2 linked regions of the Homo sapiens genome follow. Changing the gene in region 1 together with any one later gene gives a genetic interaction. Each region holds a gene or a part of one and is shown in the gene's direction. Other genes may lie near its edges.

Region 1 (5,226 bases):
GGCCAAAAGACTCTGAGGCCCCGCTTTAAGATTATTGGGGGAGAATTCACCACCATCGAGAACCAGCCCTGGTTTGCGGCCATCTACAGGAGGCACCGGGGGGGCTCTGTCACCTACGTGTGTGGAGGCAGCCTCATCAGCCCTTGCTGGGTGATCAGCGCCACACACTGCTTCATGTACGGCCCTGGGTTTCTCCTCTTCGACTCTTCTGCCCCACCCCAAGCACATCCCTTTCTCCTTCCCAGCAAAGTGTTCCGCCTCATTTCTCCCTCATCTGCCCCTGTCCATGCAGCCCATGGCCTTGGGGACAAGTCGTGCTTTGAGGCCTCTAGGGAGGGAAGGAAGAAGTGGCAGATTTCATGGGACTAAGCTGTTTGATGGGTATCTTCTCCCACAGTGATTACCCAAAGAAGGAGGACTACATCGTCTACCTGGGTCGCTCAAGGCTTAACTCCAACACGCAAGGGGAGATGAAGTTTGAGGTGGAAAACCTCATCCTACACAAGGACTACAGCGCTGACACGCTTGCTCACCACAACGACATTGGTGAGGGGGAACCCCGCGACTACTGTGGCCATAATGGCTTGGGGAGAGTGGGACCCAGGGAGAGACTGGAGCTGAGGTTGAAGCTGCCCGGTGGGGCAGGGGTGGGGCGAGGGACCTTGAAGCCTCGATATACATGACAAAGGGAGTGGCAGGGAAGAGTTCCATGAAGTCTGAGGGGCCTGGTGCTCCTCTGGAGAGACCCTGAATTTCCCCAACAAGTAGCCTCTTGCGAGTGGAAACAGCCCTGTGGGTATATGGCTTGGGCTGGGAAGGCCCTGTTTATATGAATTAGAAAAAGACACACCTTCCTTTGTGGGATGCAGCCTCTGTCTGTGCTAGGATATAGAACTTGGAGAATGGAGCCTTGGGATGGATTCCAGCCTAACTACCTCAGCTGGGAGTTTTTGCAGAAACGACCTGTACAGCTGTATGCAGTGGCTCTGGCCATCCAAGCCTTTTTCAACACCTGGAACAAAGCCCTTGGGGCATGGGGCAGGGGAGGTTTCCAGGTGATAAGCGACCAGCAGACCTCCCTGGATGACTGACCTAGGGATAGGCATAGCTACTTCCTCGGCACTTGGAGGGGACAGATGGGGACCGCCTAACCAGTAGTGATCTTTCTCCTCTGACCCTCTGTCCTCCCCCAGCCTTGCTGAAGATCCGTTCCAAGGAGGGCAGGTGTGCGCAGCCATCCCGGACTATACAGACCATCTGCCTGCCCTCGATGTATAACGATCCCCAGTTTGGCACAAGCTGTGAGATCACTGGCTTTGGAAAAGAGAATTCTAGTAAGTGACAATTGCGACTGACTTAGAAGGTCCTGAGGAGTGTTTTGACCTGAAAATGAGCCCAGCGTGATCAAGGGAAGACTGCAGAGTTAGAGGTGGGAGCACTGAGGCGGTGGCAGATGGGTCCAGGGATGGATGAAGAGTGTTGTTTAGGGAGCGATGGGCTGCAAAGGTAAATAGATGGTAGGGGCTATAGGTGGAGTAAAGGCTCAGATTTGCATGGAAGAGAATAAGGGCCTTCCCTGGTAGAGATACTTTATGGTTCCCCTCTCTGGCAGACTCCCAGTGGACAGATAAATCTTGATGCAAACGCCTCCCTGTTTTCTCCACCTAGCCGACTATCTCTATCCGGAGCAGCTGAAAATGACTGTTGTGAAGCTGATTTCCCACCGGGAGTGTCAGCAGCCCCACTACTACGGCTCTGAAGTCACCACCAAAATGCTGTGTGCTGCTGACCCACAGTGGAAAACAGATTCCTGCCAGGTGAGTGTTCCAAGCATCTCTCTCCACCTCTTCCATATCTCCCCAGAGCTCCTGGGCTTGTTCCAGCCAGCTTAAGGGTGTCTCTCTCTAGCCAAAGCCCTAAGTAGCCAGAATCAGGAGCTCAGGTCTTTGAGGGTTTAAACCAGTCCTTATGTGTTTGCCAGACATTACCAAAAAAATCCCAGCTCTGCGCTAGTCACTTCAGACTGGGGGCACGAGATCCTAGAAAGAGGAAACAGTAAAAGACAATGTAACTCAGTGCCCAGGGTGTGTTGTGAACTATAAATGATCAGGTGTTCAGGAGAGGGAGGTGAGTGCCAACCTGAGGGTCAGGGAGGGGAGGCTTTAAAGGAAATGTGACTTGATAGGCATTTGAAGAGGCAGAGGGAAGAAAGGAAGGTGTTTCAGTTGAAAGATACAAAACTGAGAAGGAGGCTGGCATATTCCGGGTGGGGAGGAGAACTAGGGTCTGGGAGTGTGGATGGAATAGTGGCAGATGACAGGGCTTTTAAAGCCAAGCAGGGGATTTTAAACTTGATGTGGTAGAAAATGGGGCTGCGTCAGGCACAGTGGCTCATGCCTGTAATCCCAGCACTTTGGGAGGCCGAGGTGGATGGATCACTTGAGGCCAGGAGTTTGAGACCGGCCTGGCCAACATGGTGAAACCCTGTGTCTACTAAAAATGCAAAAAAAAATTAGCCAGGTGTGGTGGTGCCTGCCTGTAATCCCAGCTAATCAGGAGGCTGAGACATGGGAATCGCTTGAGCACAGGAGGCAAGTTTGCAGTGAGCTGAGATCACGTCATTGCACGCCAGCCTGGGCGACAGAGCGAGATTCTGTCCTCCCCCCGAAAAAAAGAAAGAAAATGGGAAGTCGCTAAGGACTTTGACTGGGAAACTCTTCCCTCTCTCTGGTATGGTTGGGTGATGGGATCAGAAATCCCCTCCTCACTTCTCTAGGGCTCATCTTTTGTATCTTTGGCGTCACAGGGAGACTCAGGGGGACCCCTCGTCTGTTCCCTCCAAGGCCGCATGACTTTGACTGGAATTGTGAGCTGGGGCCGTGGATGTGCCCTGAAGGACAAGCCAGGCGTCTACACGAGAGTCTCACACTTCTTACCCTGGATCCGCAGTCACACCAAGGAAGAGAATGGCCTGGCCCTCTGAGGGTCCCCAGGGAGGAAACGGGCACCACCCGCTTTCTTGCTGGTTGTCATTTTTGCAGTAGAGTCATCTCCATCAGCTGTAAGAAGAGACTGGGAAGATAGGCTCTGCACAGATGGATTTGCCTGTGCCACCCACCAGGGCGAACGACAATAGCTTTACCCTCAGGCATAGGCCTGGGTGCTGGCTGCCCAGACCCCTCTGGCCAGGATGGAGGGGTGGTCCTGACTCAACATGTTACTGACCAGCAACTTGTCTTTTTCTGGACTGAAGCCTGCAGGAGTTAAAAAGGGCAGGGCATCTCCTGTGCATGGGTGAAGGGAGAGCCAGCTCCCCCGACGGTGGGCATTTGTGAGGCCCATGGTTGAGAAATGAATAATTTCCCAATTAGGAAGTGTAACAGCTGAGGTCTCTTGAGGGAGCTTAGCCAATGTGGGAGCAGCGGTTTGGGGAGCAGAGACACTAACGACTTCAGGGCAGGGCTCTGATATTCCATGAATGTATCAGGAAATATATATGTGTGTGTATGTTTGCACACTTGTGTGTGGGCTGTGAGTGTAAGTGTGAGTAAGAGCTGGTGTCTGATTGTTAAGTCTAAATATTTCCTTAAACTGTGTGGACTGTGATGCCACACAGAGTGGTCTTTCTGGAGAGGTTATAGGTCACTCCTGGGGCCTCTTGGGTCCCCCACGTGACAGTGCCTGGGAATGTATTATTCTGCAGCATGACCTGTGACCAGCACTGTCTCAGTTTCACTTTCACATAGATGTCCCTTTCTTGGCCAGTTATCCCTTCCTTTTAGCCTAGTTCATCCAATCCTCACTGGGTGGGGTGAGGACCACTCCTGTACACTGAATATTTATATTTCACTATTTTTATTTATATTTTTGTAATTTTAAATAAAAGTGATCAATAAAATGTGATTTTTCTGATGACAAATCTCCCTGGTGCTTGTATGGGAAGGAGTTGGAGTACATAAAAAGGAGAAAATAACAAAGGTGGACTGCACCCTAGAGTTTCTTATGGGACTGCATCTCTGGACTTAATGGAGCTTTGGGAGGTAGAGGTTAGGAGAGCTGTAGGGCAGGGCCACCACAGCACTTAATGTATACAAAGTTTCCCCAAACCACAATCCCATGGCTGTGTAAGTAGTGTACAGGCTTAGTGTCAGCTCCCAATTGCCTCCTTAACCTGATGCCTTTGTGCAGTGCACATCTTGTACAGCTGTACATGGTGGTCTTCTTTAGGGTTAACTCCACAACAGTCTCTTCACTCTGCCCCCAACAATCCTTGAGCTGACCTCAACCAAGAAGAACACCTGTGGCCAGGTGTAGTGGCTCATGCCTGTAATCCTAACATTTTGAGAGGCTGAGGTGGGAGAATCGCTTGAGCCCAGGAGTTTGAGACCAGCCTGGGAAACTTAGTGAGACCCTGTCTCTGCAAAAAATAAAAAAATTAGCCAGGTGTGGTAGCACATGTCTGTAGTCCTAGCTACTTGGGAGGCTGAGGCAGGAGGATCCTAAGCCAAGGAGTTCAAGTTTACAGTCAGCTGATTGTGCCACTGCACTCCAGCCTAGGTGACAGAGCAAGACCCTGTCTCAAAAAAAAAAAAAAAAAAAAAAGAAGAAGAAGACCTGTAAGTGAAAATTGCTGGCCAGGCTCAGTGGCTCACGCCTGTAATCCAGCACTTTGGGAAGCCGAGGTGTGTGGATCACCTGAGGTCAGGAGTTTGAGACCAGCCTGACCAACATAGTGAAACCCCATCTCTACTAAAAATACAAAAAAATTAGCCGGGTGTGGGGGTGGGTGCCTGTAATCCCAGCTACTCGGGAGGCTGAGGCAGGAGAATCATTTGAACCCGGGAGGCAGAGGTTGCAGTGAGCCGAGATCGCACCACTGCACTCCAGCCTGGGCGACAGAGGGAAGACTTCGCCTCAAATAAATAAAAAAATAAATAAAGAAAGAAAATTGCTTATCCAGAATGCCAGCTTGACTCTGTGGCATTCAGGAAACAAAAAACATAATTTCCCATCATCTGTGTGTGGGACTGATGCTGGAATTTTCTCAGTGTGTTAACAGAGCTTGTGACCAGCCATTGCTATGCCTATGATTAGGGGGCCCAGAATCTCAAAGCTGGATGATGTCCTAATGGGGGTGACTATATATTTTGAACAAAACATCAAGTTCTGAAAAGCTGGGGTGTAGAAGGCAGGTTGGGAGATAATTGGGTATCAAAAATTAGAATT
Region 2 (7,496 bases), on another chromosome or scaffold:
TTCTGTTTTCCAGGCTGGTGTGCAAGATCATGGCTCACTGCAGCCTTGACTTCGGCTCAAGCGATCATCCCACCTCAGCCTCCAGAGTAGCTGGGACTGCAGGCATGTGCCACTATGCCTGTCTAATATTTGTATTTTTTGTAGAGATGGGGTTTCGTCATATTGCCCAGGCTAGTGTTGAACTCCTGGGCTCAAGTCATCCACCTGCCTCAGCCTTCCAAAGTGCTGGGATTACGGGAGTGACAGGAGTGAGCCACCACACCTGGCCTGTATTTCTTGGATCTTCACATTTGTGATCTAGCTACACTGTGTACAAATGGGATGAACCAGTATTTGCCAATATTCAAACATTTTTGACCTACAAATAGAGCAACCTGATATGGTTCAACCAAATATATATGTTACAGTGTTTATTATTATACATCACTGATTCATACACATATAGTTCAGTCTTATTCTTGTCTGTATGGTCAGCACTTATGTTAGGCCCTCAGGAAAAGTTGACAGAACCGATGGATCACTGCCGGTCTGAAAAGGAAATGAGGAAAACAAATTCTCCTACCTTGAACTATTCTGCAAACTTTAACCATTGGGGTAATTGTTTATCTGGGCTTCTTGGATCATGATAAGGGCTTAGGGTTTACTCAGTGGAGGCCAACCCAGCATGCATAGAATCATAATATTTCAATATTAAAAAGAATGCTGCATTTTACACAGAGTGGAAGTGAGGCCTTGAAAATTTCAATTAATTGCTCAAAGTCCTAATAGTTTTTATTTGAACTAGTAAATATAAAATTATACCAGAATTCAGATAGACTGCCTTGATAATAGATTACTTTGAAAAGTTTCAATTTTTTTTTTTTTTTTGAGATAGTCTCACTGTGTTGCACAGGCTGGAGTACAGTGGAGTGATCTTGGCTCACTGTAACCTCCACCTCCTGGGTTCAAGTGATTCTCCAGCTTCAGCCTCCCAAGTAGCTGGGACTACAGGCACCCGCCACCACATTCAGATAATTTTTGTATTTTTAGTAAAGACAGGGTTTCACCATGTTGGCCAGGCTTGGTCTTGAACTCCTGACCTCAGGTGATCCTCCCACCTCAGCCTCCCAAAGTGCTGGGATTAAAGGTGTGAGCCACCACCACACCTGGCCTTCAATTCACTTTTTAATGTTTATTATTTTACTCTGATACTAAAAATTATGCATGTTTAACATGAATAAGGACACACTTCTACACACACATGCATACATTTACATCTATGCCTCTATATTAAAAAGTATGGGGGAAAGAAATGGGGAGATGTAGGTCAAAGAATATAAAGCAGCAGATATGTAGGATGAAGAAGTCTAGAGATCTAATGTACAACATGAAGACCATAGTTAATAACATTGTATTTTATTTGCGTTTTTTGTTAAATAAGTAGATTTTAGCTGCTCGTCATACTTTACACAAGCCTTTATGTGACGGTATAGATATGTTAATTCACTTCACTATAGTAACCATTTTACTATCTATATATATCCCATAACATCATGTTACAAACCTCAAATATACACAATAAAATTTATTTTTATTTATTTAATTTATTTATTTATTTTTGAGACGGAGTCTTGTTCTGTCGCCCAGGCTGGAGTGCAGTGGCGCGATCTCGGCTCACTGCAAGCTCCACCTCCCGGGTTCACACCATTCTCCTGCCTCAGCCTCCTGAGTAGCTGGGACTACAGGCACCCACCACCACGCCCGGCTAATTTTTTGTATTTTTTAGTAGAGATGGGGTTTCACCGTGTTAGCCAGGATGGTCTCGATTTCCTGACCTCGTGATCTGCCCACCTCAGCCTCCCAAAGTGCTGGGATTACAGGCATGAGCCACCGCGCCCGGCCTATTTTATTTATTTTTGAGACAGAGTCTTGCTCTGTTGCCCAGGCTGGAGTGCAGTGGTGCAATCTCGGCTCACTGCAAACTCTGCCTCCCTGGTTCAGGCAATTATCCTGCCTCAGCCTCCTGAGTAGCTGGGATTACAGGTGCCCACCACCATGCCTGGCTAATTTTTGTAATTTAGTAGAGACGGGGTTTCACCATGTTGGCCAGGCTGATCTTGAAGTCCTGACCTCAAGTGATCTTCCAGCTTTGGCCTCACAAAGTGCTGGGATTACAGGTGGTAGCCGCCACTGCATCCACCCAGAATAATTTATTTTTTAAAAAACTATGAGTTCAGGCCGGGCGCAGTGGCTCACGCCTGTAAACCCAGCACTTTGGGAGGCCGAGGTGGGCGGATCACCTGAGGTCAGGAGTTTGAGACCAGCCTGGCCAACATGGTGAAATCCTGTCTCTACTAAAAATACAAAATTAGCCAGGCATGGTGGTGCATGCCTGTAATCCCAGCTACTTGGGAGGCTGAGGCAGGAGAATCACTTGAGCTTGGGAGGTGGAGGTTGCAATGAGCCAAGGTTGCGCCATTGCACTCAAGCCTGGGCAAAAAGAGCAAAACGCCACTCAAAAACAAAAACAAAACAAAACAAAAACACCCCCCCAAAAAACAAAACAAAACAATGAGTTCACACTGATACCTCCAATTCCAATACAATAGCGTAAGGTATTCTCCCTTCCCATACTTCTAACGTCATTCTACCACAGTGAGAAAGCTGGCTCTGTCATGCTTAATATATTTAGTGACTTAATCAACCATCCTGAATGCAACTAACCTCCCATCTAAGCTTCTAGGCCTTCCCCACTTGGATGCCTTGTTCTCCCCTCTTGGGCCCTACGGCTAAGACTTTGTGTAGGACTGCCTCCCAGGTGTTCAAGCCCTCTTCATTTTCTCAGGTTCCTCAGCCTCCTTACCTGCTAGGTCACCAACACCTGGCTGTGGATAACCAGGTGTAGATGTTTCCTTTGTTCTGTACACGTTTCCTTTGTTCTGTACACCTAATGTCTTTGACACTTAGTATTTTAGGATGGGAAAGGGGAAGAGGAACACTGAATGTGCACTTTTAAATGGGTATTGTGCCTCTTATTAAGCTCTTTATTCACATCTTATTTCTTTAGTAATTCACAGAATTGGAATTTTTGGATTAAAGTTCTTTTTTTTTTTGAGACGGGGTCTCACTCTGTCGCCCAGGCTGGAGTGCAGTGGTGTGATCTTGGATCACTGCAACCTCCGCCTCCCGAGTTCAAGCAATTCTCTGCCTCAGCCCCCCAAGTAGTTGGGATTACAGGCACCCGCCACCACGCCCAGCTAATTTTTTGTATTTTTAGTAGAGATGGGTTTCACCATCTTGGCCAGGCTGGTCTTGAACTCCTGACCTCGTGATCCACCCGTCTCGGCCTCCCAAAGTTCTGGAATTACAGGCGTGAGCCACCGCGCCTGGCCTGGATGAAAGTTTTTTTAAAGGGAGTCTTGCTCTGTAGCCCTGGCTGGTGTGCAGTGGTGTGATCATAGCTCACTGCAGCCTCAAACTCCTGGGCTCAAGTGATCCTCCAGCCTCAGCCTCCTCAGTAGCTTGGACGACAGCTGCACACAACCATGCCCAGCTAATAGAGACGGGGGACTCACTATGTTGCCCAGGCTAGTCTCGAACTCCTGGGCTCAAGTGATCCTCTTGCCTGGGCCTCCCAAAATTGGGATTACAGGCGTGAGCCACCGCTCCTGGCCCGAAAGAGTGTTTTTAAGGCTTTAAAAAAATATTGCCAACATGGTGAAAACCCGTTTCTACAAAAATACAAAAAGGATCCGGGCATGACGGCGAGTGCCTGTAATCCCAGCTACTCAGGAGACTGAGGCAGGAGAATCGCTTGAACGTGGGAGGCAGAGGTGGTAGTTAGCGGAGATCGCGCCACTACACTCCAGGCTGGGCAACTGAGGGAGACACCGTCTTAAAAAAAAAAAAGTTCCCAAGTCTAAAAAAAAAAAAATCATCAATCTGCTCTCAAAAACTGTCGCAACAATTTACAATCTCATCAGCACTGAGTATCCATTTCCTTGCACCCTTCTCAGTAGTATTACCATTAAACAAACAAAATTTATATGCGTCAGTTTGTTGGGCTCAAAGGAGCCTCTCGACAAGTTTCCTATTCCCCACGCTGCCTCTCCTCTGGACACAGGAAGGGGTCCTTTTCCTTATTTATTTTGTTATTTCATTTTCGTCAACACGGCTCGGCTTGGGGACAGGGGTCGGGGGCAGGCCGGTTACCGCAGAGGTGGAGGCCGCGCGGCACCTGGCCTGGAGAGCTCACCACACAGCGACACAGACTTCTTCTCAGCTGGGTCCACCTGCTTGCCTCGGGGCGACAGAGGGCGCCACGGCGTCCGCGACGGACCCCGCCCCCAGGCAGTGCGCCGCGCTCCCGTGACGTATTTCCGCGTCATCTGCCGCCGAGGCTTGCCCCCATTGGTTGTCTGCGAGGCAATAGGGGCGGAGCCGAGTGGGAGTGTGGAAAGCGCCGCATCCCGGGTGGGAGGCGAGGCTTCCCCTTCCCCGCCCCTCCCCCGGCCTCCAGTCCCTCCCAGGGCCGCTTCGCAGAGCGGCTAGGAGCACGGCGGCGGCGGCACTTTCCCCGGCAGGAGCTGGAGCTGGGCTCTGGTGCGCGCGCGGCTGTGCCGCCCGAGCCGGAGGGACTGGTTGGTTGAGAGAGAGAGAGGAAGGGAATCCCGGGCTGCCGAACCGCACGTTCAGCCCGCTCCGCTCCTGCAGGGCAGCCTTTCGGCTCTCTGCGCGCGAAGCCGAGTCCCGGGCGGGTGGGGCGGGGGTCCACTGAGACCGCTACCGGCCCCTCGGCGCTGACGGGACCGCGCGGGGCGCACCCGCTGAAGGCAGCCCCGGGGCCCGCGGCCCGGACTTGGTCCTGCGCAGCGGGCGCGGGGCAGCGCAGCGGGAGGAAGCGAGAGGTGCTGCCCTCCCCCCGGAGTTGGAAGCGCGTTACCCGGGTCCAAAATGCCCAAGAAGAAGCCGACGCCCATCCAGCTGAACCCGGCCCCCGACGGCTCTGCAGTTAACGGGACCAGCTCTGCGGAGTAAGTATGGGGCGGGCGGTGAACCTCGGGGCCCGGCTGGGGAGGCCCGAGCCGGGGAGCAGGAGCGCGCGCCAGGCTCCGATCTGGTTTGTCACGTACGTCTGGGGCTGGCAGGGGGCGAGAAACTCCCGGCCGCCGAGGTATCGGTGACTAAGCACTGATTGTGTTCCTGACTCAGACCAGTTAGCGGATCCCGCGGGTCTCCATTCCTCTCTGTACCCCTTTTCCCGACCGTTTTAGTGGTTCCTGGCCACTGTACAGTCTTCTCCCAAGAAAATAAAAGCTAGCACGTCTCCCCTGCCTCCTCCCAGTTCTGTTCTAAATGTGATCATCTGGGAGTCTGGCCTGTAACGGGGAGAGGAGGCTAATGTTTTGGAAAGAATTAAGATCGCATCTGTGCTTTTGAGACCAGCTCAGGGTATTAAGTGTGGAGCATCATCCTCACCTTCATGCCTGACACCTGTGGGGCCTGAGTGCCTTGTTGCAGGCCAACTGCCTGGCCAGCGGGGGCGTGCTGGAAGTCCGTGTGGACTTCGTGGCTTTTCCTTGCTGACTTTGGAGGTTCCTGGTACTTGGCCTTCCTGGGAAATTGCTCAAGAAAGCGGCTTTCTTCTTCATCCTACTCTTCATTCATTCATTGAACAAACCATTTTCTCACTAATGATTTCCTAGCTTTCCGTACTTCACCAGGAGCCCCTAAACTCCTGACCTGAGGCATGAACACCATGACCTAGAAACCACATGCTAGGTGCTCCATCTCTGCAGCTTCCAGCGTTGCTTACAAACGAGCACTTTATTTCATTAAATAATCATGAGTCTGTTTCCTGGGGGTTTCTGAGCTCCCACAACTCTCTTGGGTTCTAGGTAAGGGACAAGACTATGTGAGGGAAAGCTGCTTAGCTAGCTAGAGAAATAGCCAGAAAAGATTAGGTTATTATTATTTTTTTGCCTTTTTTTGGTTGTTGTTTGCCCAACCTTCAATAAGGATTGGGTTCTTAATCTTTTACCTGCACACTGCAGACTTTAGGAAGCTAATTGATGAAATCAGAATAGGCTTGGACCTTATGCTCTTTGGTGATTTCTGTAACCTCCCTTCCTTTCTCTAGATTTTTAGAAAATTTTATTTTTTAAACTTTTATACAGATGGGGTCTTGCTATATTGCTTAGGCTGGTCTTGAACTCCTGGACTCTAGCGATCCTCCCAAAGTGCTGGGATTACAGGCATGAGCCACTATGCCCAGCCAACTTTCTCTAGATTTTAATAACCCGGGGACCTGTTGGCTTGATGACTTGTTCCATCCCTGTAATGATCACAAGGTCGATGGTGGACCTGTGGTGTGTGTTCAGCTGTGTTTTTCAGACCTGCTCCCAACAGACTCTCTTCTTTAGTCCCCTCTCAATCCTGTGGGGTCTATTTTGCATAATACTGACTTGTATAGGTAGTTGGATTGCATTATTGCATTGCAAACATTTGTTCTTTTTTTTTTTTTTTTTTTGAGTCGGAGTTTCACTCTTGTTGCCCAGGCTGGAGTGCAATGGTGCGATCTTGGCTAACTGCAGCCTCTGCCTCCCGGGTTCAAGCGACTCTCCTGCCTCAGCCTCCCGAGTAGCTGGGATTACAGGCATGCGCCACCATGCCCGGCTAATTTTGTATTTTTAGTAGAGATGGGGTTTCTCCAAGTTGTTCAGGCTGGTGGCAAACTCCCGTCCTCAGGTGATCCACCTGCCTCGGCCTCCGAAAATGCTGGGATTACAGGCATGAGCCACCGTGCCCAGCCCATTTGTTCAGTTTTAGTATACAGTGTTTCACCCTCTTAAAATAGACTGAAAGTCATGACTGTTGTTAGGACAAGTTTTGACCACAGTGGATTCTGGCTGAGTGTTATGGCCTCATTATCCTTTCCTATTTGATTTGGAAGTGGATACTGAGTAGAAGTACCTGTTATCATTCTGTTGTAATCGTGATACCACAACTGTATTCTCTCAAGGAGGAGGAATTTCATTAAAACAGTAAAAGCAGGATGAGAAGAAACTACCCCAGATTTGGTGGCAGAAAAATTTGGATGGTACTGGGAGAGTCTAAACAGTGGTTAAAAGGTAAGGGCTCTGGAGTCAGGCTAAGTTTGAAGCCTAGCTCTGTTGTGGTTTTTTTTTTTTTTTTTTTTTTTTGACAGTCTCGCTCTGTTGCCCAGGCCAGAGTGCAGTGGTGCGATCTCGGCTCACCACAACCTCCACCTCCCGGCTTCAAGCGATTCTCCTGCCTCAGCCTCCTAACTAGCTGAGACTACAGGCACGTGCAACCGTGCCTGGCTAATTTTTGTATTTTAATAGAGACAGGGTTTTACCCTGTTGGTCAGGCTGGTCTCAAACTCCTGACCTCGTGATCCTCCCACCTCAGCCTCCTAAAGTGCTGGGATTACAGCCCGGCCTCTGTTGTGGTTTTGTGACCTGGTTCAAGTCTTTTAGTCTAAGGCTTAGGTTTAG

The links. Genes that interact genetically often act in the same process or in processes that back each other up.
Region 2: of PLAU (region 1) and MAP2K1, changing one suppresses a phenotype caused by changing the other (phenotypic suppression), as found in Homo sapiens cells (one study listed by BioGRID).

Annotation. Positions count from the first base shown.
Region 1 is NC_000010.11:73,913,583-73,918,808, forward strand, and holds the end of PLAU (urokinase-type plasminogen activator isoform 1 preproprotein), read left to right. Parts: coding exon 1-176; intron 177-397; coding exon 398-546; intron 547-1,193; coding exon 1,194-1,334; intron 1,335-1,668; coding exon 1,669-1,817; intron 1,818-1,988; exon of another isoform or gene 1,989-2,039; intron 2,040-2,806; coding exon 2,807-2,983; 3' UTR 2,984-3,912; downstream 3,913-5,226. UniProt on the Homo sapiens protein: Specifically cleaves the zymogen plasminogen to form the active enzyme plasmin.
Region 2 is NC_000015.10:66,382,416-66,389,911, forward strand, and holds the start of MAP2K1 (dual specificity mitogen-activated protein kinase kinase 1), read left to right. Parts: upstream 1-4,496; 5' UTR 4,497-4,932; coding exon 4,933-5,012; intron 5,013-7,496. UniProt on the Homo sapiens protein: Dual specificity protein kinase which acts as an essential component of the MAP kinase signal transduction pathway.